4 separate regions of the Homo sapiens genome follow, and regions 2, 3 and 4 are each linked to region 1. Evidence: fine-mapped expression QTL. A gene starts in region 1. Each other region holds a variant in brackets. All regions are shown on one strand. Distances are from middle to middle. Region 1 holds the start of MAN2A2 (mannosidase alpha class 2A member 2). Region 2 overlaps HDDC3 (HD domain containing 3). Region 3 overlaps UNC45A (unc-45 myosin chaperone A). Region 4 holds the start of RCCD1-AS1 (RCCD1 and UNC45A antisense RNA 1).

Region 1 (8,236 bases):
GCCACGTTGGCCTCTGTGATGGCCCGGGGTGGCACCTTCCAAGGGCAGTTGATGCGCCCACCAGGCAGGCGTTTGAAATCAAATTGGCAGCAGATCTTGGGATCTGGGCCACAGGTATGGGGGACGTCATAGCTGTAGAAGGGCATCATGTGACAGAAGATGTCTGTGCTGGAGTCCGAGTCTGCAGGAGACACACCACGTGGTCACCACCAGCAGGCAGCCTCTGGACGCCAGGGGGGCAAGGATCTGTTCAGGCTAAAGGCAGCCCTGATAGACCGCGAGGCTGTAACTGGACCTAGGGCTGGAGAGAGTGTGTAGGCCAGGGAGAAAGACATGAGGGGCTCCCTCAGGGGACGGGCACACAGGGCACGCTGAAGCCCTTGGGACAGCAGGCCCTGTAGAGGCCAGAGGTCAATATGGCCCTCCCCTAACCAGAGGGTGCGACCATTTCTGGCAGTCCACACCAGTGCCTGCAGGTCTGCTCTGAAGAACAGTGGGGGTCTTAGTTCTGATATCCCTGCTGTTCCCCAGTGAAGACTATGCTGCAGTAACCCCCTCTACCCTACCCGGCCTTACCCCATGTCTGCCTCCACATGAACTCTAGGCTGTGGGTGGCAGCAAAGTGCTTCTTGATGGCATAGTGCACTCTCTGAATCAGCATGCTGGTGAGGTTGGCACGGCGCAGCAGGTAAGGCATGGTGGAGCTGTATCCAAAGGGGTCCACTGCCCAGCCAGAGCGGGGGGTTGCACCTGGGCAGGGCATGGAAGCCAGAGAGGCCCTGAACACACCTCAGGGGCTGGCCCCCCGGCCTTCCAGGTGCTGGGACCCCAGCTCTTGTCCTGGTAGTGAGTGGAGAGATGATATCACACCAGGCCCACATGGTGGGATCTGCCTAGAAAGGAACCACCCCCTGCCGATCCCTGTGCCTTACAGCCCCTGCCTGTGCCTTACAGCCCAGGGGGCAGACCCCCATGCCTGGGCCTGGACTTACCAAGATTTCTCTCCAGCCACTGGTGTCCTTCGATGAGCTGGTCAATCAATGCAAAGTAGTGGGAATTGGCCTCATCTGGCATCACCCAGCCTCCTGTCGCAATCTCCAGCTGCCCGTTTCCCACCAGCCTATAGTTAAGGACTCACACTCAGGACGGAGCAGGACACTCTGCCCAGTCCTGCCAACCAGCAAATGTCAGGGCCTGTGTGCACTGGCCTCACTGGACCAGTTCTCCCAATCCCAGGACCAAGAGAACACACACTTGCCCTCCTTTCCTTACAGCCAACCTCCAGGCTATCCTGGCCCCGCTTATCTCGGAACCTATCTGTTTTTGCCTTCCCTCCCTCCACCATCACTCATCTCTTCCACAGCTCTCTGGGCCTCTCCCTGCCACCTTGGCACCCATAGCTTAAGGTAAGACCCGTCCACCCAGCCTGGGGCTCAGACAATGCCCTCCCATGCCTCCCCGCCTGGTACTGGCCTTCGGACTGCCGCTCTCTTTTGGACATTGATGTTGTCCCACCACTTGGCGAAGAAGGAGACCTCTGCCCAGAGGAAGCGCCGCCGGGGGTCCTCCTGCAGCTTAGACACCATGCTATTGAGGATGTGTTGGGTCTGCTCTGTGTAGTACTTGTCAAAGGTCTTGATCCAGCCTAGGGAGCCAATGTAGGGTCCCCTGAGGATGCCACCATCTTCTTCGACGTCCCTCCCTTGTATTGGCCATCAGAAATCCCACTCCACACTCCAGCTCCCAGGAGTCTGCAGGGCCCTCACCTGGGTCATTGTGAGAGTGGGGCACCACAAACACCTGCAGGTCTTCAGCATCCCAGTCGTGCGGGTCGTAGGAGATGTCGAAGCCTTGCCTCCACACACCACCATCCACGTTGTCAAACGGCAGCTCCTCCGACACAGTGAGCATCTGCCAGGTGAACTGCAGCTCAGTACCCCAGTCGTGGCCACTGTACGTCCCTGCCAGCTCTGACTCTTACCTGCAGCTCTGGCTTCTGACCCCGGCCCCCCAAAGCAAACTGGCAGTCCTGCGGGGAGATGGAGAAGAAGCTGGGCCGGGGCTCCGGTGGCACCACCCAGGAGCCATTGACCGTGTAGTAGGGCAGCATGGCGGGCGGGCCCTCTGCGTTGGCTGTCAGCTCCAGCACGGAGTCCTTGATATGGCTGATAATCTCATGGTTCTCCTCCAAAAGCTGCTCCAGCTGCTCAATGCGGTTCTGCAGCACAGAAATTTGGCTCTGCCAAAAAACCAGAAAGCAATCACACACAGCTCCTTATGCCACAGGGAGGGTCTCTGCTTGGGGTCTACCAGCTGAGGCCTGAGTACAATTCTTCCCTCATCAGTCAAAGCCAGACCATGAGCCTAGAGGGATAGATGACACCGTTCAGATAAAGGGAGCTGTGCAGATCACCACTGAGGACTACACTCCACTTGGGTTGGGAGAACCATCACTCTCTAGCTCAGGGATGGCAAAGATTTCCTTTCACCTACCTATTCTCAACAATCGGTGTTGCCTGTGCTGAGGATTTCAGCGGGGCTTAATGGCAAAGAATGCTGCAATCAATTAGCAATGTCTGCCAAGAATTCAGGAGGGGCTGGGCGCGGTGGCCCACACCTGTAATCCCAGCACTTTGGGAGGCCAAGGTGGGTGGATCACCTGAGGTCAGGAGTTCAAGACCAGCCTGGCCAACATGGCGATACCTCGTCTCGTCTCTACTAAAAATACAAAAATTAGTCGGGCATGGTGGCAGGCTCCTGTAGTCCCAGCTACTTGGGAGGCTGAGGCAGGAGAATTGCTTGAACCTGGGAGGCGGAGGTTGCAGTGAGCCAAGATCGCGCCACTGCACTCAAGGCTGGGCGACAGAGCGAGACTCTGTCTCAAAAAAAAAAAAAAGAAAGAAAAGAATTCAGGAGAACAGAGTGACAATACTCATTGCCATTGACATTTTTTCTTCCTTCCTTCTTTTCGCCATCACTGTTTTTAGCTGAGGGTTTCTACAAAACCTGACTATTGGGAAGGAAGGCTCCTGTCCTGTACTGACATTACCCTCCAGCGGGGGGTGGGAGGGGAGGCGGCGGGGTGGGAGGTGCATACCCTGAGCCCAGGTGACTTGTATACAAAGAAATTAGCAACCAGGCACGACTCACCCGGGGGAAGTTCCCACCATTCTGGTGTCGGGTGGGATCGTGTTGCACTCGGTCCAGCATGAGGTAGAGCGAGAAGACTGCCACACAGAAGATGGCAGCCCCACACACTGTCACCTGCTTTTTCAGCTTCATACTGGCCTCCACACACACCTGGCAGGAAGGACACCATCTGTAGCTCCAACATGCAAAATGCCCGTGGCAGTCTTTCCACCAAATACCCCAGTGAGTTCCTGAGGGCTGTTCCAAAGGAACACCCATTTGCCTGGCTCCAAGTAGCACAAGCAGCACATCTGAGGCTGGCCCACCTGGTCCTGGTAGCAGCTCTGCCGCTAGGGTGGAGAGGACGCTCTCCTTTGGCTGGTGCTATGAAAAACGGGCCCAGGATAAGAGTCCCAGCTCCGACTGGAGCGCACCACACAAGCTCCTGATTACACAGCTTCCCTGCCTAGATAGGAGGTGCCTGTTCAGGCTCCTCGGCCATGTGCTTCTAGTTTCAGGTGAATAAGCTAGTCTCTATTTTGTTTGATTTAAAAGTTTAGCCAGAACCCAAAGAGACTGATAGGAAAGCCTTTCTCAGTGCCCTTTCGGGTCAAACTGGCACTCACCAGAAACAGTGCCTGGCACGATCCTTTCTCAGAAACACAGAATGAGTTTCTTTCTAATAAAGAAGAAAGATGCTTGTGTTTCTAGCATAAAGCAAGCCCTGTGTGTTCTCCCTGTTTCTCTACTGTTCACTGCAGTGGGAAACTTCCAGCCGCGGTTTGCAGAGCACTTAGGGGACCCCTAGGAAGCCTGCAGTGACGCCGAAGGCCCCCTGGGAAGGGAGAGACGGGGCCCAGTGCTCAGCTGCGAGGCAACTTCAGGGGACCCGTGCCCCCCGCCGCCACCGCCCTCGGGCTCCGCTTGCCTGCTCAGGAGGAAGGAGGACGCTAACTGCGGAGCCGAGCGTGGGCGGGACCGCGCTCCGGAGTCTGCTCCGCGGGCCCTGGGGCCGAGGAGCTTTGTCGCCTCTGCGTTGTGCCCTACTTAGCGCGATCTGATTCTGCTCGGGAGCTTCCGGGCAATATTTTCAGCCCTTAGAGACTGGGTCTAGGCCAATGTGGGTGGAGCTGGGGAGAGAGTTGGATCACAGAGGGCAGGCACCTGCCGCCAGGTCTCTGGCCGCCCGCCCGGCTCCCTCCCCACCCGCTCCGACTTCGTCGGCCCCGGGGACCGCAGAGACAGGCGCCAGGTACGGGCCTCAGGCAGCCTCCTGTCCCTTCCTGGCCCCTCTGACGCCGCAGTGGCGCTCGCACTCCCGCCGCCCGAGCCCGGCCTCTGTCGGGGCAGCCGGAGCCCTCCCGCGCGCGCACCCGGCCCGTTACCGTCAGCGCCCGGCCTCCGCGCCGCTCCGGGCCCAGTCGGCCGAGCTGCCGGCTCTCACACGCCCGGGGACGGCGGCCCGCGTGCAGGCAGCGACGCAGGCGAAGGCGGGCGCCCGCCCACCCGTAGCCCCCTGCTCCGCGCGCCGCTGCCGCGCTCCCGCTGGGCCCCGGGCCGCCGGCGCGCTCCGCTGCGCCGGCCCCGCGCGGGTCCGCCAGCCTCTGAAGCTGCCGGGCCCAGCAGCGTGCGGGGCGGGGACAGCCGCGCCGCCCGCCCCGGCCTGCGTGTGCCCGGCGGAGCTGACAGGAGCTCTGGCCGCCGCGGTCCCCGCCCGGCTCCTCCCGGGCCCGCTCCGCTGGGCTGCAGTGCGCAGCCGCACCAGCCCGGGCCGGGCCTGGCCAGCTGCGGAACCTCAGGAGGGACGCGCGACTGAATTTTTTCGGAATCCTACTTGAGTAAGCGCATGATCGGGCAGTGGTCGAAACGCCCGCCTCCGTCTCGGCAGACGCGTAGCGGGGTGCGTTCTCCGCGGCCTCACCCGGCTCCGGCCCAGGTAGCCTTAGGTCTCTGTCGTTGCGCCCCTCGGGCAAAGGGGTGCTGCCTCCTGTCGGTACAGCGCATTCCTCGAGTCCCTTTCCTTTCCGTGCCTGCTCTATGTTTCCTGCCAGCGAGTGAACAAGACACAGACTTTTCTTGGCTGTTTCCCTTTTACTGGGCATCTAGGTTGTTTACAGTTTTTCAGTGTAATCCATACTGCAATGAACATCTCCATGAATTCCACATTTTTGTTCTTTTTAAGTTATATATAACATTATCTGAATGTGACCCCCCAAATTCATGTTCAAATCCTAATCCCTCAAGGTGATGATGGTATTAGGAGATGGGCCTTTGGGGGTGAACAGAGTTTGAAGGGAGAGCTCTCATGAATGGGATTAGTGCCGGTATCAAATGACCCCGAGAGTCGGCCCCTTCAACCACGTGAGAACACAGCTAGAAGGCACTATCTGTGCACCACAGGCAGGCCCTCACCCGACACTGAATCCGCTTATGCCTTATCATGGACTTTCCAGCCTCCAGAACTGTGAGAAAATACATTTCTGTTGTTGATAAACTACCTACTTTATGGTATTTTGTCCTAACAGCCCGAACAGATTAAGACGTTATTTTATGATGAATTTGCAACAGTGAAGTTACCCGGGCAAAAGATAAGGACAGAGATGACTGATGACACTATCGCTCCCCCAAAAGACTGTACCAGTTTACACCATCAATAACAAACTGCTGGATATTGCTTAAACAATGTTTTAGCTGATTAATGAGATATATAATGCCATCTCATTTTTAAAAATTTTCCTTTAAGTTCTGGGATACATGTGCAGAACATGCAGATTTGTTACATAGGTATACATGTGCCATGGTGGTTTGCTGCACCCATCAACCCATCATCTAGGTTTTAAGCCCCACATACATTAGGTGCTCTCCCTCACCTTGCCCCCAACCCCCGACAGGCCCCGGTGTGTGATGTTCCCCTCTCTGTGTCCATGTGTTTTCATTGTTAACTCCCACTTATTAGTGAGAACATGCGGTGTTTGGTTTTCTGTTCCTGTGTTAGTTTGCTGAGAATGATCAATGCTATCTCTTATTTAACGACCATTTCTTTTTTTTGAGACAATATCTCACTGTTTCCCAGGCTGGAGTGCAGTGGCACCATCTCAGCTCACTGCATCTTTGACCTTCCAGACTCAAGCCATCCTCCCACTTCAGCCTCCTGAGTAGCTGAGCCTTACAGGTATGTGCCACTACACCCAGCTAATTTTTTTATTTTTTAATTTTTTTATTTTTATTTTTTGAGACGGAGTTTCGTTCTTGTTGCCCAGGCTGGAGTGCAATGGCGCGATCTTGGCTCACTGCAACCTCCGCCTCCCAGGTTCAAGCGATTCTCCTGCCTCAGCCTCCCAAATAGCTGGGACTACAGGCACGTGCCACCATACCTGGCTAATTTTGTGTTTTTAGTAGAGATGGGGTTTTACCATGTTGTCCAGGCTGGTCTCGAACTCCTGACCTCAGGTGATCCACCTGCCTCAGCCTCCCAAAGTGCTGGGATTACAGGCGTGAGTCACTGTGCCCGGCCCTAATTTTTTTATTTTTTGTGGTGGGTGGGAGGGTCTCACTGTGTTGCCCAGGCTGTTCTCCAACTCCTGGGCTCAAGCGATCCCCCCACTTTGGCCTTCCAAAGTTCCAGGATTACAGATATGAGCCATAGTGCCCAGCTCTTTTTATTTTTTTATTGTTTTTGACAAGCTCTTGTCTGTCACCCAGGCTGGAGTGCAGTGGTGTGATCATGGTTCACTGCAGCCTCGAACTCCTGGCCTTGATCCTCCTGCCTCAGCTTCCCAAAGTGCTGTGATTACAGGGATAAGCCACTGCACTCGACTGCCACTTCTTTTATCACCATCAGGAACAGCTTTCCAGGTTTGTTTACTCACTGGAATGCCTGTTATTAGGGTGTTAGACCTAGACTGGGCTCATCATCCTCTTTGTCTTTTCATATTTTGCCTTGTGTTCTGGGAGATTTATTTTCCAGCCCTTCTATTGAATTTTCCATTTTGGTAATTTTTTTTTTTTTTTTTTTTTTTTTGAGACAAAGTCTCACTCTGTCGCTCAGGCTGAAGAGTGGTGGCGTGATCTCAGCTCACTGCAACCTCTGCTTCCCAGGTTCAAGTGATTCTTGTGCTTCAGCCTCCCGAGTAGCTGGGATTAGAAGCGCGCACCACCATGCCCAGCTAATTTTTGTATTTTTAGTAGAGATGGGGTTTCACCATGTTGGCCAGGCTGGTCTTGAACTCCTGACCTCAGGTGATTTGCCCACCTCGGCCTCCCAAAGTGTTGGGATTACAGGCGTGAGCCACCGTGCTCAGCCTCATTTTGGTGATAATCTTCTTTTTTCCTTCGTTTTGAGAGGGAGTTCTGCTCTTGTTGCCCAGGCTGGAGTGCAATGGCGTGATCTCCACTCACCACAACCTCTGCCTCTGGATTCGAGTGATTCTCTTGCCTCAGCCTCCTGAGTAGCTGGGATTACAGGCATCTGCCACCACGCCTGGCTAATTTGGTATTTTTAGTAGGGATAGGGTTTCTCCATGTTGGTTGGACTCGTCTCGAACTCCCAACCTCAGGTGATCTGCCCACCTCAGCCTCCCAAAGTGCTGGGATTACAGGCATGAGCCACCGCGCCCAGCCTGATAATCTCAATTTTCAAGAATTCTTGTTTGTTGTCTGGTGGTTCTTTTTTAAAAATTTAGGTACAGTTTACACTGTGTGGCACAAATCTTAAGTGTACAGCTTGATGGGTTTTGATAAATACATACACAAGCATAATCACCACCCAGATCAAAATGCAGGACATTCCCATCTACCCAAAATGTTCCCGTGTTAAGTGGCCAAGCAGTCCCTAAGCACACCATAGTGGCTGTCAGACTGTGGTCCAGCCTTGCCTATGTGGCCCATGTAGAGACACACATGGTTGTAAGGGCACCATGGTGAACCTTTTCCCCTCCATCTTCACACGCCTTTCCATCAGGACCCTCCAGACATAAGCACTGCTTTGACTTCTCTGTAACTTAGTTTTGCCTGTTCTTGAACTTCATAAAATAGAATCATAAGTATGAACTCTTTTCATGTCTGGCTTCTTTACTCAGTATGACTTTTTTTTTTTTTTTTTGAGACA
Region 2 (8,236 bases), 24 kb before region 1:
AGCTGGAGAGAAAGAGGCTGCAGGTGGAGCAAGCGCCCCACAGTAGCCCCGGGGCCAAACTGGTGAAGCTGGCAGACAAGCTGTACAATCTGAGGGACCTGAATCGCTGCACCCCAGAGGGTACGCTTTCGTATGGGCTGTAAGGGAAAAGGGAGGGGGATGCCGCCTTCTGAAGACACATGTTGGTCAGTTCCCCTGAAAAACCCTGGGCATTCTTAATTCCCAAATTAATCCTACTGGACCACTCTTTGATCTTCTTTCATACAGTAAAAATACAATAGCTGGGCCAAGGGGAAGTTTTCAGGACAGCTCATTCCATCAGGAACTCATGGCCTTGAACCAAGCTTGCCAGGAAGTGGGGAAAAGGCAGTGCTTTCCTTGACATCACGCTAGCAAGTTTCTGTCGACTCTTATGCAGGATGGTCAGAACATCGAGTCCAGGAATACTTCGAGTGGGCAGCGCAGGTGGTGAAGGGGCTTCAGGGAACAAACCGGCAACTGGAAGAGGCTCTAAAGCATCTGTTCAAGCAGCGGGGGCTGACAATCTGATCAGTGCTTGAAGCTATCCAGAGGCACAACTCCAGCCTCGTTCAGGCCGGACAGGATTCATACGCCATCTTTTCTGTGTCTCCTGAGCTCCCTCCATCCTTCCCAGATATTAGAGGCCAAAAAAAGACTTGCATTTTTTCTCAGTCTGAAGGTCTCCTGCTAACTAAGCTGAGCCCCGCGTGGTGGGAATCAGATGTACCCATCCATTTCTGATGCACTCACCGCCTCTCCCCAAGTCTTGGGTCTGTTTGCTATTTTGCATGGTGGGATCTCTGGCCCCTCAGGGACTTGAGATTATTTAAGTACTAGTTCCTAACACGTTCTGGAAAATAAAAATAACTCTGGGTTAAGGTTTAAGCTGCTGCTGCTCCTTCTCCAGCCTCCGACTGGTGGGCTGCATATCTTTCCTTCAGCAAAGCAGGACTAATTGTGTGTCCCGGAGTCACCTCCCTCAGGTTGCGGGCCTCAACCCCTCCGAACCTGGCTTCCTTGTCAGTGACATGGGTTGTGTAATTATCAGGTTAGACTGTGACGTGCCTGATGGAGCCTGACACATAGGTGCTCAAGAAATGGTAGCAGCCTTTCCCGTTAAGAAAGTTGGAAGGGGGCCAGGCGCGGTGTCTCTCGCCTGTAATCCCAGCACTCTGGGAGACCGAGGCGGGCGGATCACTTGAGGTCAGGAGTTCAAGACCAGCCTGGCCAGCATGGCGAGGCCCCGTCTCTACTAAAAATACAAAAAAAAATTAGCCGGGCGCAGTGGCTCGCGCCTGTAATCCCAGCTACTCAGGAGGCTGAGGCAGGAGACTCGCTTGAACCCGGGAGGCGGAGTTTGTACTGAGCCGAGATCGCGCCACTGCACTCCAGCTTGGGTGACACAGCGAGACTCCGTCTCAAAAATGAAAAAAGAAAAGACGTATCGGAAGGGAGTGCCGCCCGCTTACTGACAACCACTGCTGGGCACCGGAGAGACCCCAGCAGCAACATGATTGGGCCGGTGGGGGATTCCGGTTCCCCAGTACCTCAAGCCGCGCGGGAAACTCGGTGACTCGCAATCCCCTCGCCCTTCCGCATTGCGGGTTACTTCGGTTGTTAAGTGACAGGGACTTCCGGGAAGGCCCGGAAGTGGCCCGGGGCTGTCCGACCCCGGGAGCCCGGCGGTCGGCGTAGGGGAGGCGGTGGAACTTTGCTCGGTGGCCATGGGGAGGGATTGCCCGGTGGTGGTTTTTCAGTCGTTGCTGAGCAGCTGAGGTTTATTTTTATGTATTTTATTCTGCATCCAGTCATCCATTAAAGCCAAAGTTTATTAAGTTGTCTGGAAAAGCGATCATCTTGGGTACGAGGAAATTGTTAGGTCAAAGCTGTTCGACTACGATAGTTGTTTGCCCAAGTGAAGGCCCCAGCGGAGGGCTCTGCGAAAAAGTAGGTGAAAGGCAACCAAAAAAGCCGAATTAAAAGAAAACAAATGAACAAAGTTCAGAGTAATCCCCAGGGTATGGTACATTTTGGAGAACTTTGAACTTAATTTTTTTAAATAGTTTTGCGGGAGTAAGATAACGAGATTTTTTTAAGAAAAGATGACTTTGTTGTAGTCCACTTTATATATTTTGTTGCCTGTGTTTTTAGTGTCATATCTAAGAAATCGTTGCCAAATCTAATGCCATGAAGCTTTTCCTGTTTTCTTCTAGGAGCTTTCGTTTTAGCTTTTTTTTTTGAGACGGAGTTTCACTCTTGTTGCCCAGGCTGGAGTGCAATGGTGCCATCTCTGCTCACCATAACCTCCGCTTCCCGGGTTCAAGCTATTCTCCTGCCTCAGTCTCCCGAGTAGCTGGGATAACAGGCGTGCGCCACCACGCATGGCTAATTGTTGTATTTTTAGTAGTGACGGGATTTATCCTTGCTGCCCAGGCTGGTCTTTAACTCCTGACTTCAGGTGATCCACCCGCCTTGGCCTCCCAAAGTTATCGTTTTAGCTCTTACAAGTAAAGTTTTTGATCCATTTTGGGTTAAATTTCTTTTTAAATCAATTTAATTTGGTATAAGGTATACATGATGTTATGAGGCTACATACAGGTAGTAAAAAGGTTACTATAGTGAAGCAAATTAACACATCCATCATTTCACGTAGTTACCCAATTTTTTGTTGTTTTTGTGGCAAGAACATTTTGGGTTAATTTTTGTATATGGTGTAATTTTTTTGTATATACACCATATACAAAATATATGATGTATGGTTTTGCTTGTGGATGTCCAGTTTTCCTAGCACCATTTGATGCAAGGTCTGTCCTCTTAGTACCTGTTTTTGGATTTTTTTATTTTTTATTTTTTAGTAGAGATGGCGTTCCACTAAGTTGGCCACACTGGTCTCGAACTCCTGACCTCAGGTGATCTGCCCACCTCAGCCTCCCAAAGTGCTGGGATTACAGGCGTGAGCCACTGTGCCCAGCCTTGAATAACTCTTCACAATATTGCTTTCTAGAATTTTAGTTCCTGCCTCTTTTTAAACTATAAACTAGTATTACATTTATAGCCAGTATTTAGGTGTACCCTCCCTCTCATTAGTTTATGCCCCTAGACAAATTCTCTTTTTGCTTAAGTACACCTACTTTCTTCCACTAAAGTTTTGTACATTGCAAACTGTTGAGTCTTTGCATGTCTGAAAATGTCTTCATTTCCCCCGTGCTCTTGAATGGTGTAGCTGATAGCAAATTCAAGGCTGAGTTTTCTCTAGGTTTGAATGGACTCCAGGTGTCTACTGTAGCTAACTAGATGTCTGCTATCACTGTGATTGTCTTTCCTTTGTAAGACTTTTCTATTTTTTTTTTTTTGAACAGCATCTCCAATTTGCATTCATAAAATTATTAATCCAAATTGCGAAAGTAGACTTTTACAGAGTCACAGGTCAGTAACAAAACAGGAAATGAAATGTTCCAGAGCCTTTTTTTTTTTTTAAGATGGATTCTCGCTCTGTCACCCAGGCTGGAGTACAGTGGCGCAATCTCGGCTCAC[T/C]GCAACCTCTGCCTCCTGGGTTCAAGCGATTCTTATGCCACAGCCTCCCTAGTAGCTGGGATTACAGATGTGTGCCACCACGCCCGGCTAATTTTTGTATTTCTAGTAGAGACAGGGTTTCACCATGCTGGCCAGGCTGGTCTCAAACTCCTGACCTCAAGTTATCCGCCTGCCTTGGCCTCCCAAAGTGCTGGGATTACAGGCATGAAGCCATCGTGCCCGGCCTCCAGAGACATTTTGATAAGTTCCAAAGAAACACACTAGGCAGGCTGGGTGCAGAGGCTCACGCCTGTAATCCCAGCAATTTGGGAGGCCCAGGCGGGTGGATCACGAAGTCAGGAGATCGAGACCATCCTGGCTAACATGGTGAAACCCCGTCTCTACTAAAAATACAAAAAAATTAGCCGGGCATGGTGGCGGGCACCTGTAGTCCCAGCTACTCGGGAGGCTGAGGCAGGAGAATCACTTGAACCCAGGAGGCGGAGGTTGCAGTGAGCCAAGGTCATGCCACTGCACTCCAGCCTGGGAGACAGAGCAAGACTCCGTCTCAAAAAAAAAAAAAAAAAAAAAGGCCAGTGTGGTGGCTCACGCCTGTAATCCCAACACTTTGGGAGGCCGAGGCGGGTGGATCATGAGGTCAGGAGATCAAGACCATCCTGGCTAACACGGTGAAACCCTGTCTCTACTAAAACTACAAAAAATTAGCCAGGCGTGGTGGCGGGCGCCTTTAGTCCCAGCTACTTGGGAGGCTGAGGCAGGAGAATCACTTGAACCTGGGAGGCAGAGGTTGCAGTGAGCCGAGATCACGCCACTGCACTCCAGCTTGGGCGACAGAGCTAGACTCCGTCTCAAAAAAAAAAAAAAAAAAAAAAAAGCTAGGCTAAAAATCTACAGTTAAACCATGGTTGTACAACAGGTTATATTCATTCCTGCAGTTTCTCAATAAGTTCTTATATTTGCCTTTCTCTTTTGAGAGTGAATCCCACTCACTCTATTGCCAAGGCTGGAGTGCAGTGGCATGATCTCAGCTAACTGCAACCTCCACCTCCCTGGTTTAAGCTATTCTTCTGCCTCAGCCTCCTGAGTAGCTTTGACTACAGGCGCATGCCACCAGCCCAGCTAATTTTTGTATTTTTAGTACAGACAGGGTTTTGCCATGTGGGCCAGGCCGATCTCAAACTCCTGACCTCAGGTGATCCACCCACCTTGGCCTCCCAAAGTGCTGGAATTACAGGCGTGAGCCACCGTGCCTGGCCTTTAGGTTTTATCTTACGTAATTTGCAATATATCTACACGAGGTTTTTTAAATTGTTTTAATTTTTTTGAGACGGAGTCGTGCTCTGTCGCTCAGGATGAAGTGCAGTGGCATGATCTTGGCTATTTGCAACCTCCATCTCCCAGGTTCAAGCGATTCTTCTGCCTCAGCCTTCCAAGTAGCTGGGATTACAGGCTATAGGCACACACCAGCATGCCCCGCTACATTTTGATTTTTCTGGTTTTTGGGTTTTTTTGTATTTTTAGTAGAGACAGGGTTTCACCACGTTGGCCAGGCTAGTCTCAAACTCCTGACCTCAAGTGATCTGCCCACGTTGGCCTCCCAAAGTACTGGGATTATAGACATGAGCCACTGCACCTGGCCTGTTTATTTATTTATTTGTTTGTTTGTTGTTGTTGTTGTTGTTTTGAGACGGAGTCTCACTCTGTCGCCCAGGCTGGAGTGCAGTGGCGCGATCTCGGCTCACTAAAACCTCTGCCTCCGGGTTCATGCCATTCTCCTGCCTCAGCCTCCCAAGTAGCTGAGACTACAGGCGCCCGCCACCATGCCCGGCTAATTTTTTGTACTTTTAGTAGAGACAAGGTTTCACCATGTTAGCCAGGATGGTCTCGATCTCCTGACCCCATGATCCGCCCGCCTCGGCCTCCCAAAGTGCTGGGATTACAGGGGTGAGCCACCGCGCCCAGCTATCTATTTTTTTTGAGATGGAGTCTTGCTCTGTCACCCAGGCTGGAGTGCAGTGGTGCGATCTCGGCTCACTGCAACCTCTGCCTCCTGGGTTCTCGCCATTCTCCTGCCTCAGCCTCCTGAGTAGCTGGGACTACAGGCGCCTGCCACCTGGCCCAGCTAATTTTTTTGTATTTTTTTAGTAGTGACGGGATCTCACCATGTTAGCCAGGATGGTCTCGATCTCCTGACCTCATGTTCCACCCGCCTCGGCCTCCCAAAGTGCTGGGATTACAGGCATGAGCCACCGCACCCGGCCTGGCCTTTTTTTTTAAATGTACCTTTCTTGGAACTTAATGAGCTCTTTGATTCTGAGATCTCACATCTTTCTTCAGTTCTGAAAAATTCACCGTCTTTGTTTTCTCATCCCTGTATTCTCACTAGTCTTTTTTTCTAAAACTGCTATGAAACATTATGCCAAAGCTTCTCAGTCTATCCTCCATCTGTCTTAGCTTCTTTTTTATATTTCTTTTATCACTGTGGTGCATTCTGGGTGATTCCTCAGTTGTTTTCCAGACCTGCTAAATTTTTATGTCATCTGCCTCCAGTCTAGGGCTTATACCATACATAGAGTATATTTCAATAATTGTATTTTTACATTTCCAGCATGTATAATTTGTAAAATCTTATTTGCTTCTTTTCAGTCAGTTTCTCATTGCAAGACTGAATATCTTTAGCTCTTTGGTGATTGCACATATATATTTTTTAAAGTATTTTTTTAGATTGCTTGCATGTCATCCTGTTTTTGTTTGCAACTTACATTTTTCCTGCCTGTGTACCTCTCAGAGTCTGGTTCTGGTCCCTTGACGTTCCTAGGTTACACTTGGTTACCTGTCCCACGTGGACTTTGAAGTCCCAGCACCTACCATCCTGAACTAGTCTCTACTTCTCTCAAGCTGTATAGCCTCAGCCTCTGCTAATGGCTGTATTATTCTCTCCATTCTTTGTCAAAGAAGATTTCCTTTATTTTGAGTTTGACAGTTTTTGCTTTCTTTTTTTTTTTTTTTTTTTTTTTTTTGAGATGGAGTCTTGCTCTGTTGCCCAGGCTGGAGTGCAATGGCAAGATCTCAGCTCACTGCAACCTCTGCCTCCTGGGTTCAAGTGATTCTCGTGCCTCAGCCTCCCAAGTAGCTGGGATTACAGGCGCCCACCACCACACCCGGCTAATTTTTGTATTTTTTAGTAGAGATGGGGTTTCGCCATGGTGGTCTGGCTGGTCTGGAACTCCTGACCTCAGGTGATCTGCCTGCCTCGGCCTCCCAAAGTGCTGGGCTGTGCCCGGCCTGTTTTTACATTTTTAGTATTTATTTAGCAATCTCTGGCATTAGGAGTTGAGAGGGCAGAATTATAGGTGTGCTTGCGCCTCTAGTTGGAATGCAAGTCTCTAGGTATGTTAGTCTGTGCTGTTATGACAAAAATACCTGAGACTGGGTAATTTATAAAGAACAGAAATTCGTTTTCTCACAGTTCTAGAAGCAGGAAGTCCAAGATGAAGGTGCTGGCAGGTTCGGTGTCTAGCGAGGGCTGCTTTTTGCTTCCAAGGTGGTCACTGCATCCTCACACAGTAAAAAAGGCAGGCTGTGTGAAGCCTCTTTCATTAGGGCCTTAATCCTATTCACGAGGGAGAAGCTCTCATGACCTAATCACCTTCTAAAGGCCCCACCTCTTAATATGCTGCATTGGAGGTTAAGTTTCAGTATGAATTTGAGAGGGACACAAATATTCAAACTTGCGGGAGGCATGCTGACTGGGAAACCCCAGTCCTTCCTACTCCACTGAGGGGCCTTCTCTAGGTCTCCACACTCAATGCTGTGTCTCAAATCTTCAACTCTGTCACATTCAGAATGACAGAGTCCGCATCTCCAACCCCACTTTGGTTTCCTGTGCCCAGACTACCTAACTACATGGATTTTTAGTTCAGGTTTATTCTCAACTAGGGAGGTCCAAAGTCAGGAGCCAGAATGTCAGGAGTCAGGAGCCAACTGCAGACCCAGCTGGTCCTGGGTACTGTTACCATCTGAATTGATTTCTCACTGACCCTAAGTAAAATTGAGGGTTGTTGCGAAGGATCTGGTCTCTGTCTTATCTCTTCTCACTATGAGAATGAGAATGAGAATGAGCCCTTGAAGTGTTTGTCCTTCACACACTTTTTTGTTAGGGAAGAACAAAGATTTTGTTCAGAGATCTCTATTGTGGATGGTAAGCCTCATTCCCACCATCCTAGACTGATTTTCCCCCTCCGTGAGTGCACAGATGCCCCAGTGACAGAGCAAGGTAAGCAAGTCAGGTTCAGGTCAAATTAAAGATGCTGCTCTCTCTGCACAAGTGGTCGAGGTTTTATGTTTTACCTACCCTGAGGCAAGCCATATGAGGACACTGTCTGGGCTGGCTCGCCCTGCATGGGAGGACCAGCTCTTAAGTGGTTCAACTGGAGCCTTTCTCTCTGTGGTTCCAACTGGCCATACAGCCCTTCCTTCTTCATGAAAGCTGGATGGTTCCAAGTAAATGTAGGAATAGAATCCGATCCGTCTCCAGTGGTTGAAATGGCTTCTGTCATGTCCTGGTTCATTTTGATGGTAACCCTCAGAACTGTGAGGCTGGCCGGGCGCAGTGGCTCACGCCTGTAATCCCAGCACTTTGGGAGGCCGAGACAGGCGGATCACTTGAGGTCAGGAGTTC
Region 3 (6,603 bases), 37 kb before region 1:
AGACACGTGGCTGGAGATAATCACAACTTTTCTTTCTTTTTTTTTTTTTTTTTTTTGAGACAGTCTCCCTCTGTTGCCCAGTCTGTAGTGCAGTGGTACAATCACAGCTCACTGAAGACTTGACTTCCCAGGGTTAAGTAATTCTCCCACCTCAGCCTCTGGAGTAGCTAGGACTGCCGATGCACACCACCATGCCCAGCTAATTTTTTTTAATTTTTCATAGAGACAGGGTCTCGCTATGTTGCCCAGGCTGATCTCAAACTCCCGGCTTCAAGTGACCCCCTGCCTCTCAAAGTGTGTCATCCACCATGCCTGGCCCCACTCACAACTTTTCTTATTACTCCTAAGAATAAACAAACTTCAGCTGCTGAAGCAAGTTTTTGTGAACTATATCACCTACCTTGGTCGATGACCCAGAGGGTGAGGCTGTTGTTGGGGTCCTTGAGAGACTTCCGGGGCACCGCTTTAATCAGGAGGGTCAGGGCATTGTCTCGGCCTTGGCCAGAGACCCCCACCTCTGTCAGCAGATCTAAGAGGTTACTGATGAGGACCTTCAGCTCCCGGGCAGGATCTGGCAACAACAAGAAGACATCAGTGGGCTCCACAGCAGCCCAGCCCAGTTTGACCCTTCAACTTCTCCAACAAACCAGGGAGACACAGGGAAGGGGGGATCCGCATCCCAGGCTCCAGACTGAGCTCCAGCTTTGTCCTGAGGCACCTTGGTTGCTGAGAATCTAGAGTAAAATAATGTCACCAAACCGTATTCCAAACAACCTGCAGCTGCAAGTCTGGTCCCCAAAAAACTGGCCTGGCTGGCTCAGCCCCATCCCTTCCATGACAGTAACGTCCAAAAGACCCCAGACCTGCTTCCACTCACCCACAATGATGGCACCTTCTTTGCCTCGGAAGCCTTTTTTGACACCTTCCTTGAGGGCATCAAACATAACCTGCAGCAGGTGGCAGGCAGCCAGGGACACAGCCTGGCTTTCCACGCCCAGGATGGAGACTACTCGCCGAGTTCCCAGTATGCTCAGGGTTGCCACTGTCTGGGGTGGGAGAGGTAAACAGAAGGAAGCTTCCAGTTGTTGAAGGGCAGCCACAGAGATCCCTAACTGTGAGTTAGAGGATACGGCCAGAAGGAGAGAATTGGGTGGAAGGCCCAGCTCCAGGTGAAAACAACACAGAATGGATGGCATGACCCAGGGTAATGGCAGGATAATTTTGTTAGAAAGATTTCCTAAAGGAGACATTACACGGCAATGCCCTACTACCTCTCCTTGGTGCCAGAGAAGACATAGTATACTGCAGCCCTGGGAGCAGCTGCCTTAGCTCATGCCTCCCCAAGAAAAAGACCTATACCTAGACGAAGCTACCTGACCACCAGGCTTAATGGTCTAGTTCTTCCCCAGTCTAAACCCTGAGGTTCTTTCCACACCCTGGGGATGTGGACGTCACGTACACGGAATGGGCCCGTGAGACCTCTCCACCCAGTTTCTTTCTTTTTTCTTTTTTTTTTTTTTTTTTGAGACGGAGTCTTGCTCTGTCGCCCAGGCTGGAGTGCAGTAGCGCGATCTGGGCTCACTGCAAGCTCCACCTCCCAGGTTCACGCCATTTCCCTGCCTCAGCCTCCTGAGTAACTGGGATTACAGGCGCCCGCCACCGCACCCGGCTAATTTTTTGTATTTTTAGTAGAGACGGGGTTTCACCGTGTTAGCCAGGATTGTCTCAATCTCCTGACCTCGTGATCTGCCCGCCTCGGCCTTCCAAAGTGCTGGGATTACAGGCATGAGCCACCGCGCCGGGCCCTCTCCACCCTGTTTCTAAGCTGGAGAACCCTAGAAGGCCTGCTTGGTCCACTGAGCCCAAATCCTGACTGCTTCCACTTAGCAGCTAAGTGTCCTTGGCCAAGACTGTGAACTGGAATGGACCGGAAGGCAGGAGGGAACAGAATGCACATGCTTTTAACAGTCTTAGCCTTGGGAGACCCAGAATGCAGCCCAAGCTTAGCCTAAAGAGATTTCATTGACTATTTCACAGTTTCACCCCTATCTAGGAATTGTGGGCTCCTCTAAAAGCAACCAAGGGCCTAGTCTTTGGTCCCCTCTCCCCTGGAGCAAGCCAGCTCAGGTAAGAGCTGGGGGCATGGACTTCACCACACTGGCCCAGGAGCAGGACTGTTATTGCTGCACTGTCCATGCTGGGCCACCACCATCCATGCTGAGAATCATGTCGGGATCAAGCCCTACGTGTCCGGTCACTGTCTCGATGGTAGATGCTGTGGTGGCCAGGCACATTCTGGGCCATGAGCTTGCTTGTGCCATATGGACATTGAAGGAGTCAGTGACCAATGTGTTTTTGTGAGTTGGCTGCAGGAAAGCTGGGGCTCACACTTGTAAGCCCCCTACAAAGCAAGTGCTTGGGGTACCCCAAGGCTGTTTTTGCTCTTTCTACCCCACTTCATCCTAATTTATGTTGGTCTTTTTCACGCCATTTTTATTTTTTCTCTCTTGTTACATGTATCTCCTTGTACTCTGCCTTTTCTTTTTTTGTTGTTTTGTTTTGTTTTGTTTCTGAGATAGTCTCGCTCTGTCACCCAGGCTGGAGTGCAGTGGCGCGATCTCAGCTCACCACAACCTCCACCTCCTGGGTTCAAGCAAGTCTCGTGCCTCAGCCTCCTGAGTAGCTGGGATTACAGGCGTGCACTACCATGCCCGGCTAATTTTTTTATTTTTAGTAGAGACAGGGTTTCGCCTTGTTGGCCAGGCTGGTCTTGAACTCCTGACCTCAAGTGATCCACCTGCCTCAGCCCCCCAAAGTGCTGGGATTACAGGTGTGAGGCACCATAACCTAC[C/G]TAAGTTCTTTTTAGAATAAGGTAAGGGGTAGAGGGTGGAAGAGTGGATGGATGGATGGACGGGCAGATGGGCGGATGGACAGATGGGTGGATGGAGGAATGGATGGACAGACAGACAAAGGGACTGAAGCTGTAACCAGCCTCTCCACTCCACCTACCCGTGACTGATGCTCAGAGCAAATGCCAACCAGCGTACGCAGAGCCGCCAGCATGAGGTCAGTCTCTCCCATGTCCAGTAAACGTTGCAAGAGCTGAACCCCATTACTCCGGAAGATCTTCTCCGCTCCAGCATCCTCCCTGGCCAGCACCACCAGGTTCTGAGAAGCCTGCGTCAAAGGAAGCACATTATAATGTTGACACTGCACACGGCATAGGATGCAGCACTGGTGAGCAGGGGCCCCGAGCCCTGGACCTCTCTGCTTCCACTTCACAGTTGAGTGACCACGGCCAAAAAATAACCTCTTTGAAGTTTAGCTTCCTCTGTAAATAGAGGGAAGAGCCTTCTCTCGGGATTGATGGTTAGAGCAAATGAGTCCCCAGCAGAGCCTGAGGGGCTGGGACAGTGCCTCAGTTACCTCTGTACACCCAGTTCCTGGCACAGGGCGTGGCCAACAAGGTACTCTGTGAACACTGGTTCTCTTTCCTTGGTTCACGCTAAAGCCCCAGACCCTCAGAGCTCCCATCCAGGCCCCGTGAGCCCAGCTGCACGATTGGAGGAGCGGCAGAGCAAGGCAGCAGTGGCTTCGGGGGCCTATGGATGGGTGGCTCTAGTGGGAGCTCACTCACTGACTCAGCCCAGGGCCTATACCTTTTGCTTTTTCTCAGTGCCCTTCTCTTCTGGGTCCAACAGTATCTGAAACATCTGTTCCACTTTGGCATCCGTCGAGGACATGTATCGCACCTAGACAAACCAACAAAGCATGGAACAAATCACGGCTCTTGGCCAGAGACATCACACTCCCTATTCATTTGTCTCCAGCTCCTCACTCTGGGAGGCACAGTAAAGATGTCCAGGCTCAGGGCTAGCACCTAGCTACCCTGGGCAGGAAGAGACTTGCCTGGCAGTGCCTCCTAAATTTCCCGCACCTGTTTTTCTTTCTGAGCTATTTCCTGCTTGGGCAGCAGGGGCTGCGCCGATGCTGGAGTGCCTTTTCGGAGGGGAGGTATCCTGTCAGCTACGAGGCAACCCACTCCCAGTGGTGCCATCTACATTGTGGCAGCGTGAATGGGCTTCCCATGGCACTGAACTCAGCATTTATACCTCCTGCCAGGGAGCTGGCAGATCGTGAGGTAGTTGCTAACACTTCCTTTAGCTCCAGAATTCTCTTTTCACTGTTTTAAAAATAATCTGAGCTGGGCGCAGTGGCTCCCGCCTGTAATCCCAAAACTTTAGGAGGCCAAGGCAGGTGGATCACCTGAGGTCAGGAGTTCAAGACTAGCCTGGCCAACAAGGTGAAACCCCATCTCTACTAAAAATACAAAAAATTAGCCGGGCGTGGTGGCAGATGCCGGTAATCCCAGCTACTCGGGAGGCTGAGGCAGGAGAATCACTTGAACCCAAGATGCGGAAGTTGCAGTGAGCCGAGATCACGCCACTGCACTCTAACCTGGGCAATAACTGTGAAACTCTGTCTCAAAAAAATAAATAAATAAAATCTGAAGCCAGGCACGGTGGCTCACGCCTGTAATCCCAACACTTTGGGAGGCCGAGGTGGGCAGATCACCTGAGGTCAGGAGTTTGAGACCAGCCTGGCCAACATGGTGAAACCCCGTCTCTACTAAAAATATAAAAATTAGCCAGGTGTGGTGGCGGGTGCCTGTAATCCCAGCTACTCGGGAGGCTGAAGCAGGAGAATCGCTTGAATCTGGGAGGTGGAGGTTGCAGTCAGCAGAGATCCACTGCACTCCAGCCTGGGTGACAGGATAAGACTGTCTCAAAACAAACAAATAAATAAATAAATAAATAATCTGAATGGGGAAGATCATCCTAGGCCTACTCCCCCACCCCCCAGAGTCCTGGGCATAGATGGTGGCACAAGCCTAGCATGTGGACCACCCGCCTTCCTCTCTTGCATCCATGGCAGCCATGACTAACCAGTCATGGCACGTTCCCCTGCTTGGCTCAGGCAATCTGCTTCCTAATTCTTCTCAACATAGGACTCTGGGCAGCCACTGCCAATCAGAGTTGGCATTGAGAGAGGAAACCTATTTGCTTTCCCAGGCTTCAACATTTCAGTGAGGTGTCTGCCATCATGTTATCTGCTTCCACTGTGTCAGCATTTTAACGTCAAATTATCTGGCGAATTTGAGCTTGGTTGTAGCTCATAATGGTCTTTAGATTCTTTTCTCCTAATTTAAAAATATACGTATTTTACACAATTTCTCTTTATTAAAAAAATATGAACAGGTGATGCAGTCTCCTTTGGAAAGCCCTCTCAATCCCATTCCTTTCCCCAGGGGTCACCGTGTTATCATTTTGATGTATATCTTTTAAAATATTTTCCTGAAAAAATAAAGAAACAAAAATGCATATTTGGCCCAGTGCCATGGCTCACGCCTGTTATCCCAGCCAGTTGGGAGGCTGAGGTGAGTAGATCCCTTGAGCCTAGGAGTTCAAGACCAGCCACCTGGGCAACACAGTAAAACCCTGTCTCTACAAAAAATATAAAAATTAGGCGAGCGTGGTGACATGCATTTGTCCCAGCTACTTGGGAGGCTGAAGTGGGAGGACTGCTTGAGCCCGGGAGGAAGAGGTTGTACTCCAGCATGGGTGACAGAGTGAGACCCCGTCTCAAAATACATAAATAAATAAAAATAAAAATAAATTTAAAAAATAAAATATTTTCGGCTGGGTGCAGTGGCTCACACATGTAATCCCAGCACTTTGGGAGGCCGAGGCAGGCAGATCACAAGGTCAGGAGCTCCAGACCATCCTGGCCAACACAGTGAAACCGCATCTCTACTAAAAATACAAAAAATTAGCCGGGCGTGGTGGCAGGCCCCTGTAGTCCCAGCTACCTGGGGGACTGAGGCAGGAGACTCACTTGAACCTGGGAGGCAGAGGTTGCAGTGAGCCAAGTTCGCACCACTGCACTCCAGTGTGGGCGACAGAGCAAGACTCCGTCTCAAAAAAAAAAAAAACAATTATTTTCCTTTGTATTTACATACCCAAGTGTACCCACAGAAAAAATATAGCATTGTTTTGCTATGTAGGGGATCATTAACATAAATGATATTATACTATATGTGTTATTGTATATTTTTCTTCTTCTTTTCTTTTTTGAAAGAGACAGGGCCTCACTCTGTCAGCCAGGCTGGAGTGCAGTGGCACGATCATAGCTCACTGTAACTGCAAAATCCAGGGCTCAAAGGACTCTCCTGCCTCAGCCTCACAGGTAGCTGGGACTACAAGGGTGTGCCACCACACCCAGCTAACTTTTTAGGTTTTGGTAGCAACAGGGTCTCACTATGTTGCCCAGGCTGGTCTCAAACTCCTGGCCTCCAGTGATCATCCCATCTTGGCCTCCAAAAGCACTGGGATTACAGGCATGAACCACCATGCCCTGCCTATTTTGCTTTGTTCATTCAACAAGTGTCCCAGAGCTTCCCATTTCAATATGTGTGTATCTACCTATTCTCAGTAACTATATAAGAGTCTGTAGTAAGGACATTACCCATTTATTCAGCCATTCCTCTATGGCTGGGCATTCAGGCAAGTTCCAAGTTTTTCTTACTACAAAAAAGGCTGAAAT
Region 4 (8,236 bases), 47 kb before region 1:
TGGGGTGGTGGGCGGGGCCCAAGCCGCCCTTCAACCAGGCTCAGCTGGCCACCAACCCCAACCCCCGCCCCAGCGCCCTCAGCGGAGGCCACAGAGGACTCCCAATATAAAGACAAACGTACTGAAGGCCCAGCATATGGGAGTCTCTACCCTAAACGACTTATTTCTTGGGATAGTTTAATATTTTTTGAGATAGGGTCTCGCTGTGTCGCCCAGGCGACACTTTGGGAGGCTGCGCTCTGGGCTCACTGCAACCTTCGCCTACCGAGTAGCTGGGATTACAGGTGCATGCCGCCACACTCTGCTCTTTTTTTTTTTTTTTTTTTTTTTTTGGTATTTTTATAGAGAAAGAGTTTTGCTTGTTGCCCAGGCTGGTCTCGAACCCCTGACTTCAAGTGATCCACCTGCCTCAGCCTCCCAAAGCGCTGGGATTACAAGCTTGAGGCACCGCACCTGGTGAGTTTCTTATTGATTAGCTTCCTAGGCTTACCCTTTGTCCCTCCAGTAGGATTAAGAAGCAACTCAGTGGGCCCTGGTTGGGGAATCCATTGGATTCCTTCCATGGAGGTGGGTCTGCCACTGTGAAGCTCCGTTGCACACTCACCCACGCCCAGCTCACACCCATACTCACCCACACTCACCCACTCAGAGACTCCCACTCACAGCAGCCCTCCCTGCCCAAGGACAGGGCACACAGTGGAGTTCTACACACTTTTATTGGAGGGGCAGGCCTGATAGCAGGCTCACAGCTGGTGAGGCTGCTGATGTGTGCGCCCTTCCAGATGCCCCAGGATCCACAGGCTGTGTTGGGATGCACCTTCCCCATTCCCAGCTGACTACAGTAGTACAGAAAAAGGGCCCCTCTGAGTGAGGCTGCAGGCAGTGCTGGCCAAGCAGGGCTGTGTGACTGAACGTGGCCGCTGACTCAGAACAGAGGACATCCTAGGGCAGCAAGCGAGGATGGGCAAGAGTATTGGGCATGCCAGCCACCACCAGCCAAAGCTGCTTCCGTCCTTACTCTCCGTGCCACAATAGGTAGCGTGTGCATGAGCCTTGGGCCCAGGGACAACCCCCTCACTCTCCATCTTGGTTGGGTTGGATAAGCCCATATTCCACTGCTTTGTCCAGGCAGGCTGCAGCAGCCCTTGTGACAGGGCTGTGGTCACCCTTAGCTAGCACTGACAAGATCTCCATCATCTCACTCTCCATCAGGGTGCTGGCAATCTCCCTCGAGGCCTCCACCATGTTCAGCACCACCACAGCACCCCGGTGCTGCAGCTCCTGGTTGGAGCTCAGAAGCAGGGCCTGCAGGATCTCCAGCCAGTGTGTGGTCTGTGAGAAAAACAGGGTAGATATGACCCCTGGGCAACAGGCTCAACCTTGGCAAGGGACACACCCACACACCCTAGGACTGCCCCCTTCAGCTGCTGCTGGGAGTTCCTGGTCCGTCCCTCCTCCCCCACTGAGAAGAGGCACTGACCACTTGGGGAATGCGGCTGCAGAGCGTGGGCCGCATGGAGGTAAGCATGGCCAAGCCCCCGGCAGCTGCCCGCTGTAGCAGCTCATCATCCTCTCCACTGTACAGCACCAGCAGCTTCAGTCGGTCATTGCCCTGGGCTTCGAAGAGGTCCTGCACCTGTGGCCAGATGTGAGGAGTGGACCAAGTCAGTTGGGTGTAAAGCCCAGCCAGGGCACAGGTACCTCTGCATCCCCGCCTGTCATGAGCACCCAGACCAACCCTCACCTCCTTGCTCATGGCCAAGTTACACATGCACTCCGTGGCTGCCCGGCGGATCATCTCATGCTCCTCAAACATGTAGCCTTCTATCATGGGCACAGCCTTCTCCTTCAGGATCTTCTGCCTGCAGGGCCACAGGAGGAAGCAGCAGGGATACGGTTTGGATGTTTTCCCTTCTAACCCTCATGTTGAACTATAATCCCCAATGTTGGAGGTAGGGCCTGGTGGGAGGTGACTGGGTCATGGGATGGGTCCCTCATGGCTTGGTGCTATCCTCGTGATAGTAAGTTCTCGTGAGATCTGGTTATTTAAAAGTGCGTGGCATCTCGGCCGGGCGTGGAGGCTCACGCCTGTAATCCCAGCACTCTGGAAGGCCGAGGCAGGCAGATGACTTGAGGTCAAGAGTTCGAGACCAGCCTGGCCAACATGGTGAAACCTTGTCTCTACTAAAAAGACAAAAAAAAATTAGCTGGGTATGCTGGTGCGCGCCTGTAGTCCCAGCTACTCAGGGAGGCTGAGGCAGGAGAAGCGATTGAACCCAGGAGGTGAAGGTTGCAGTGAGCCAAGATTGCGCCACTGCACTCCAGCCTGGGCAACAGAGGGAGACTCCATTTCAAAAAAAAAAAAAGTGTGTGGCACCTCCCCCGACTGTCTCTTGCTCCTACTTTCACCATGTGATGTGCCTGCTCCTGCTTTGCCTTCTACTATGAGTAAAAGCTCTCTGAGGCCTCCCCAGAAGCTGAGCAAATGCCAATGCCATGCTTACACAGCCTGTAGAGCCAGGAAGCAATTAAATCTCTTTTCTTTATAAATTACCCAGTCTCAGGTATTCCTTTACAGCAATGCAAGAACAGACTAACACCGGCAGCATCATCAGAGTTTCTACATCTGCTCCACCCCTGCACCCACACCCTCATGCAATCAAGTCCTGGGCTGAGGATTTCCCTTGGCAATGTCCAAGGACCCTCTTGCACCAGGTATGAACTACAGTGCTTCTTAGCCTTCTAACCAGGCCTAGGAAATAGCATAGGATTGTGGGAAATGCTCAAAATTAGGATGTAGAAGACCAGGGTGGTCGTGATGGTGAGGCTAACACCTAACATTTGAGGGTTTTTGTTTCTGTGTTTTTTTGAGGCAGGATCTCACTCTGTCACCTAGGCTGGAGTAAAGTGGCATGATCACAGCTCACTGCTGTAGCCTTGACCCCCCCAGGCTCAAGTGATCCTCCTGCCTCAGCCTCTCGAGTAGCTGGGACTACAGGTGCACGCCACCACACCTTGCAAATTTTTTTTCCAACTGTTAAGTTCAGGGGTACATGTGCAGGACGTGCAGGTTTGTTACACAGGTAACCATGTGCCGTTGTGGTTTACCGCACAGATCATCCCATCACCCAGGTATTAAGCCCAGCATGCATTAGCTATTCTTCCTGATATTCTCTTTAATTTCTTTTTTAAATAGGGACGAGGTATTGCTACACTGCTCAGGCTGGCCTGAACTTCTGGGCTCCAGTGATCCTCCTGCCTCATCCTCCCAAATTGCCAGGATTACAGGTGTGAGCCACCACGCCCGGCCTCATTTGAGTATTTACCCTGACCAGGCACCTGGATCATCTTACTTAATTCTCACCATGGCCCTATACTAAAGGTGCAAGTGTGATCATCATCACTACTGTTTTGCAGAATAGGAAACGGGCTAAGTAATGAGTAATATGTTCAAAGTCACAGTTAGTAATAAAACTAAAACATGCTGGCCAGCTGCAGTGGCTCACACCTGTAATCCCAGCACTTTGGGAGGCTGAGGTGGGCGGATCACGAGGTCAGGAGATCTAGACCAGCCTGACCAACATGGTAAAGCGCCATCTCTACAAAAATACAAAAATTAGCCAGGCGCGGTAGCACGTGCCTATAATCCCAGCTACTCAGGAGGCTGAGGCAGGAGAATCGCTTGAACCTGGGAGGCAGAGGTTGCGGTGAGCTGAGATCATGCCACTGCCCTCTAGGCTGGGTGACAGAGCAAGACTCCGTCTCAAAGAAAAAAAAAA[AC/C]TAAAATATACTGATATGGCACAATGCTAGGGGCCAGGTACCCATGTAGTAAGTACTTTTAGGTGTATTTTCTCATTTTATTCTCCTCATCACTATGCCATGAGGTAGGTACTATAATCATCCCATTTCACAGAGGGAGAAACTGAGACAGAGCAGTTAAGTAACTTGCTTGAGGTTGCCCATTTGCAATCAGGGAAGCGAGGCAGTCTGACTCTAGAGTCTGCCGTGCCGTGCTGCCTCTTGGCCTGTCGCCTCCTCTCTAATGATGCGGAGCAGTCACTGTGAGGCTCACAGAAGCCCATGACCAAGGAGTGTTTCCCAATGTGTAAACTGCTGTGGGGGATATTCCGAATCCCGATGCCTGGTCCAGGCCCCGCAATCCCAAGGGACCTTACCGGAGCCTCTCGCTGATCCCAGCCAGGTTTGTTAGGGCCATGAGCGCCTCGAAGTTCTGCAGGCCTGAGCAGTTGAGGTGCAACAGGGAGACGAGGGGCCGGACCACCTCATAGATCTGCAATGTGCACCCCACCTGTCAGGGGTACTTGCCGCAGCCCCCACAAGCCCCACCAACCCTGCAGGGAGAAGCCCACCCCCAAGAGAGTACTGCTGTCTCAGGCTGTCCTCCCTGCCCCAGGCCTTGACAAAGCTGAAACTTCCTGCTGGTCCCAAAGGGGAGCTACAGCCCAGCCCACAGGCCATCAGGGACAGAGGGAGTGGAAAGGCCGGGGCAGGAAGACACGTACCCGCTCGCCAGGGAAGGTCATCTCCGGGTTGGAGGTGATGGTGAGCTTGGCAAGGGCCTGGGCTGCCTTTGTCTGCCCCACGTCCGTGCCTTCCAGGGCCAGCGGGATCAGCGCCTGTAGGAACAAGCCCGTCACTGCTCAGGACATCCCTGGGAGTAAGACCCCGACCATCGGGCTCCCCAGCCCTGACCGTGCCACCCTCACCTTCCTCCCTCTCCCCAGGCTTGACTCCCTGTGCAGACCCTCTGCATCCAAACACTTCCTGAAACACCTAATAAGGGCTGGACATGGATTGTGCTGAGCACCAGGGCCATGGGGGTAAATGAGACAAAGGAACAGTAGAGCCTAGGACCTTCACAGGCACCAGTGTGGAGGGGCCAAGGAGCTTGCCTGCTTCCGCGTCACTCTCTCAGCGGGACGGTGTTCCTCTGGCCATTAATGTTTTTCTGTTCCATATCTAACACCCAGCTCTGGCGTGGCAGCTGCTGAGTCATGTTTTATAGGCTGATGGCTCAGCCATCAGGAAGGGGTGTGTAAACCAGCTTACCCTGCCGCCTCCCTGGGCAACCACAGTGCCTCGGTCCTCTACCTCTTCCACTAAAGCCAAGAAGACCCTGTGGGGAGAAGGCGGTGGTGGGCAGGCAGCTCTGGGACTCTGGCAGGCAGACGCTGCACTCCTAGGCTCAGCAAAGACGGCAGCCACGCAGGCAGCCCCCGTCGCTCTAAGAGGCCCACAGCACTGGAACCTGCACCCTCTGGAGCCACATCTGCAGCCCTGAGGCTCAGGAGTTGGGAAAGGTTGGCTCCTACCAAGGCTGGCTCACCTGGAGAGCAGCTCTCTGCAGGAACTGGTCAGCACAGGGCTCTCCGTCTTCACCATGCACACCATGGCCGACACCACACCCGCTGCCAGCAGCTTCTTCACCCGAGCCCGCACGAAGCTTGGCTTGTCCTGGGGGAGGAGGCAGCTTAGGAGAGGGGCCTAGGCTGACTCACAGAGAAAGGGGGACCCTTCTCACAGCAGTAATTGAGGAACTGGGAAATAAAACAGCCAGACAAAAGGAAACAAACTGGCTTAAAAGGGAGGCTGTTGGCTGGGCACGGTGGCTCACACCTGTAATCCCAGCACTTTGGGAGGCTGAGGCAGGCGGATCACGAGGTCAGGAGATCGAGATCATCCTGGCTAACACGGTGAAACACTGTCTCCACTAAAAATACAAAAAATTAGCCAGGCATGGTGGCGGGCACCTGTAGTCCCAGCTACTCGGGAGGCTGAGGCAGGAGAATGGCATGAACCCGGGAGGCGGAGCTTGCAGTGAGCCGAGATCGCATCACTGCACTCCAGCCTGGGAGACAGTGAGACTCCATCTCAAAAAAAAAAAAAAAAAAAAAGGGAGGTTGTTCTGCTGTGGATGCCCTGGGTTAGCTGTCCCCATGGTGGGGAACCCTCTAGCCCCTCTGGCGGCCCCTCACCTTGGGGTGCTGCTCGGGCACATGCTGCTTGGCATACTTGGCCAGCTCCACCATCTTGGGGTCGGGCTCCTCGTAGTCATAGCTGTTGGTGCAGTTCACCAGCGCTGAGGCCACCGCAAAGAGCACTGACCTCTCCTCCAACTGCCAGGACACAGAGGAATTCACATGGGCATCCCGGGGCAGAGCAGTACTCAGATAAATGCTGCCCAGGCCCAGGCCCCCAATTCCACCCTCAGCTGGGACCCTTGGGTACAGGATGAATTCGGGAAACTCCCAGGCCCCAGACTTTGGGAGCTTACAAACTTGACCTCCCCAGCTCCTCCAAGAAGAACGTCCTTGCTAACACCACTGGTGCTGGCCAACATGCCCACACTACACAGAGCAGCCACTCAGCCACCAGCCCTCTTCCCTGGGGTCAAAAGACCCCATTGGCCAAGCCCTGCCGAGAAAGCCTGGTAAGGTCTAATCCTAGACAGTGTCCCCAGGCTGACGGCAGGAACCACAGAGCTACCCTGCTGAGCTGGAACAGAGCTTTCAGAGCAGCCGCATCCTCCACAAACTCTTCCTTCACGTCGGCATCAAAGGTCAGGTAAGCCAGGCCCTCCACTGCCCAGCGCCGAGTGCCTGCGTCGATCTGGTCATTGCACAGCCACCTGGGGACACGCAGGATAGTGGACGACCCTCAGGATTGGGGGTACGGAGGGGTACACCAAGGCCAAGGGGGAAAAACCAAGGGTTTGGGCATCCCCTCAATGTACAGAAGCAGTTCACGTACCAGGATCCAGACTGCAGCCCCTGCCTGAGCCAGAGAGCAGGACGGAGGAGGCCCCAACCCCCACCCAGACCCCTGTGTCTTGAGATCTACCCCACAGGTGGGGAACCACAGCAAGGCCAGATGACTCACTTTCGACACTGCTTAGCCAGTTTGAGAGTGGAGCCTTCAGCAAACTGCTTCATGCTGAAGTCAGTCCCTCCAGCCGAACCGAGCTTACAGAGTCCCTGGAGGAAGAGGGCAAGACCAGTTGGCCTCTGGGGAAGGAGGCAGGAGCTGAGCTCCTCCACACCTGGCTTGGACTCCCTCCCTGGCACTCTGCCATGGCCCCCTGGAAGCTACACAGACAAATCAGCACCCTCTCCCTCCAGACCACCACCTAGAGCATGTGGCAAGAAAATCAGCTACTGGGGTGGCCGCATGACACAGCATCTGCAGACACTGATGCGCTGGCCGCTGGACAGTCGTGGGCCCCACCCCTTCCCAGGCCACACTGAGAATGGCTCTGTTTCCTTCCATGTCGCACAAAGAAGCCCTCTGCAGGTGGAGTTGAGAGGCATGTGGGGAGAGGACAGGTGCTTCAGCCACAGCCAAATCCTTATGGGATGGAGAAATCCAGGACTGAGTGCCCCAGGGAGGAAGACCAGCTTCCACAGGGTGCACAGCCACAACAGGCTCATGGAGGGCCAGGTAGTCCCCAAACCCCCAAACCACCAGCTCCCAGGAACACTGCATGACCCCTGCAGGCCCAGTCTTAAGCCCCATGGAGGGAGGAGCCATGCCGATGTCTCTCACCACAAGAAAGCCCAGAATCTCGTTCATTCATCCATTTATTTTAGAGAGGGTCTTGCTGTGTTGCCCAGGCAGGAGTGCAGTGACATGCGTGACTCACCACAGCCTCAACCTCCTGAGCTCAAGTGATCCTCCTGCCTCAGCCTCCCAAGTAGCTGGACCTATAGGCATGCACCACCAAGCCTAGCTAATTTTTTTGGCATTACAGTATTCCTTATTTTCATCTGGAGTGTGCTGGGGCCACACCCTGCAACACCGGCTGGACCAGGACCCCTGCCTGGCTGCCTGCCCACCCACCCCAGGCCCACCGTCTCACCACTAGCGCCCGGATGCGGATGCTGTCCTTCTCGCTGCACTTATATAGGTCCTTCAGCAGCGAGACACCATTGGCAGTGATGAATGAGGCCCGCTTAGCCTTGCCGGCTGCATGGATCAGAGCCTCCACGGCCACCAGCTGCTCCTCCTCCTGCTCAGAGGCACACAGAGCAATCACACTCTCCATGACACCGCTCAGCTCCAAGGCCCGGTTGCCAGCGTCACATGGGCCCTGCAGGAGGCAGGACACCGTCTGGATGGCCCGTAGCTTCCCGGCCAGCCCTTGGCCCTCAAACCAGCTCCTGAGGGGCACAGGGTGACAGCCGTCACACCAAGGCCAACATAAAGGGACTCTTCTTCC

Evidence for each region. PIP is the estimated chance that this variant, and not a neighbour inherited with it, causes the effect.
Region 2: its variant is fine-mapped to the expression of MAN2A2 in whole blood (TOPMed, PIP above 0.99).
Region 3: its variant is fine-mapped to the expression of MAN2A2 in whole blood (GTEx, PIP above 0.99).
Region 4: its variant is fine-mapped to the expression of MAN2A2 in whole blood (INTERVAL, PIP above 0.99).

Annotation. Positions count from the first base shown.
Region 1 is chr15:90,899,254-90,907,489 of GRCh38, reverse strand. It overlaps MAN2A2 (mannosidase alpha class 2A member 2), which reads right to left and starts at 4,188. Exons shown (of 23, transcript NM_006122.4): 1 at 4,058-4,188; 2 at 3,151-3,300; 3 at 1,982-2,239; 4 at 1,767-1,911; 5 at 1,474-1,645; 6 at 993-1,120; 7 at 577-750; 8 at 1-181. The coding sequence starts at 3,282. RefSeq lists enhancers at 3,198-3,257, 5,098-5,147 and silencers at 4,208-4,637, 4,658-4,927.
Region 2 is chr15:90,923,588-90,931,823 of GRCh38, reverse strand. It overlaps HDDC3 (HD domain containing 3), which reads left to right. Exons shown (of 4, transcript NM_001286451.2): 3 at 1-120; 4 at 419-1,856. The coding sequence ends at 549. It also overlaps a transcript of UNC45A not described here. Among named protein-coding and RNA genes, the nearest start is that of HDDC3, 4.8 kb to the left of the region's middle. RefSeq lists enhancers at 1-107, 1,738-1,967. The variant T/C (reference allele first, on the strand shown) is at 3,556.
Region 3 is chr15:90,936,880-90,943,482 of GRCh38, reverse strand. It overlaps UNC45A (unc-45 myosin chaperone A), which reads right to left. Exons shown (of 20, transcript NM_018671.5): 5 at 3,660-3,752; 6 at 3,010-3,177; 7 at 878-1,046; 8 at 401-571. Among named protein-coding and RNA genes, the nearest start is that of UNC45A, 4.9 kb to the right of the region's middle. The variant C/G (reference allele first, on the strand shown) is at 2,852.
Region 4 is chr15:90,946,555-90,954,790 of GRCh38, reverse strand. UNC45A (unc-45 myosin chaperone A) reads right to left here. Exons shown (of 20, transcript NM_018671.5): 10 at 7,877-8,177; 11 at 6,901-6,995; 12 at 6,508-6,649; 13 at 5,997-6,137; 14 at 5,348-5,475; 15 at 5,071-5,137; 16 at 4,524-4,637; 17 at 4,176-4,291; 18 at 1,745-1,862; 19 at 1,481-1,636; 20 at 698-1,332. The coding sequence ends at 1,075. It overlaps RCCD1-AS1 (RCCD1 and UNC45A antisense RNA 1), which reads left to right and starts at 298. Exons shown (of 2, transcript NR_170325.1): 1 at 298-456; 2 at 1,586-2,553. RefSeq lists enhancers at 1-225, 1,050-1,550. The variant AC/C (reference allele first, on the strand shown) is at 3,780.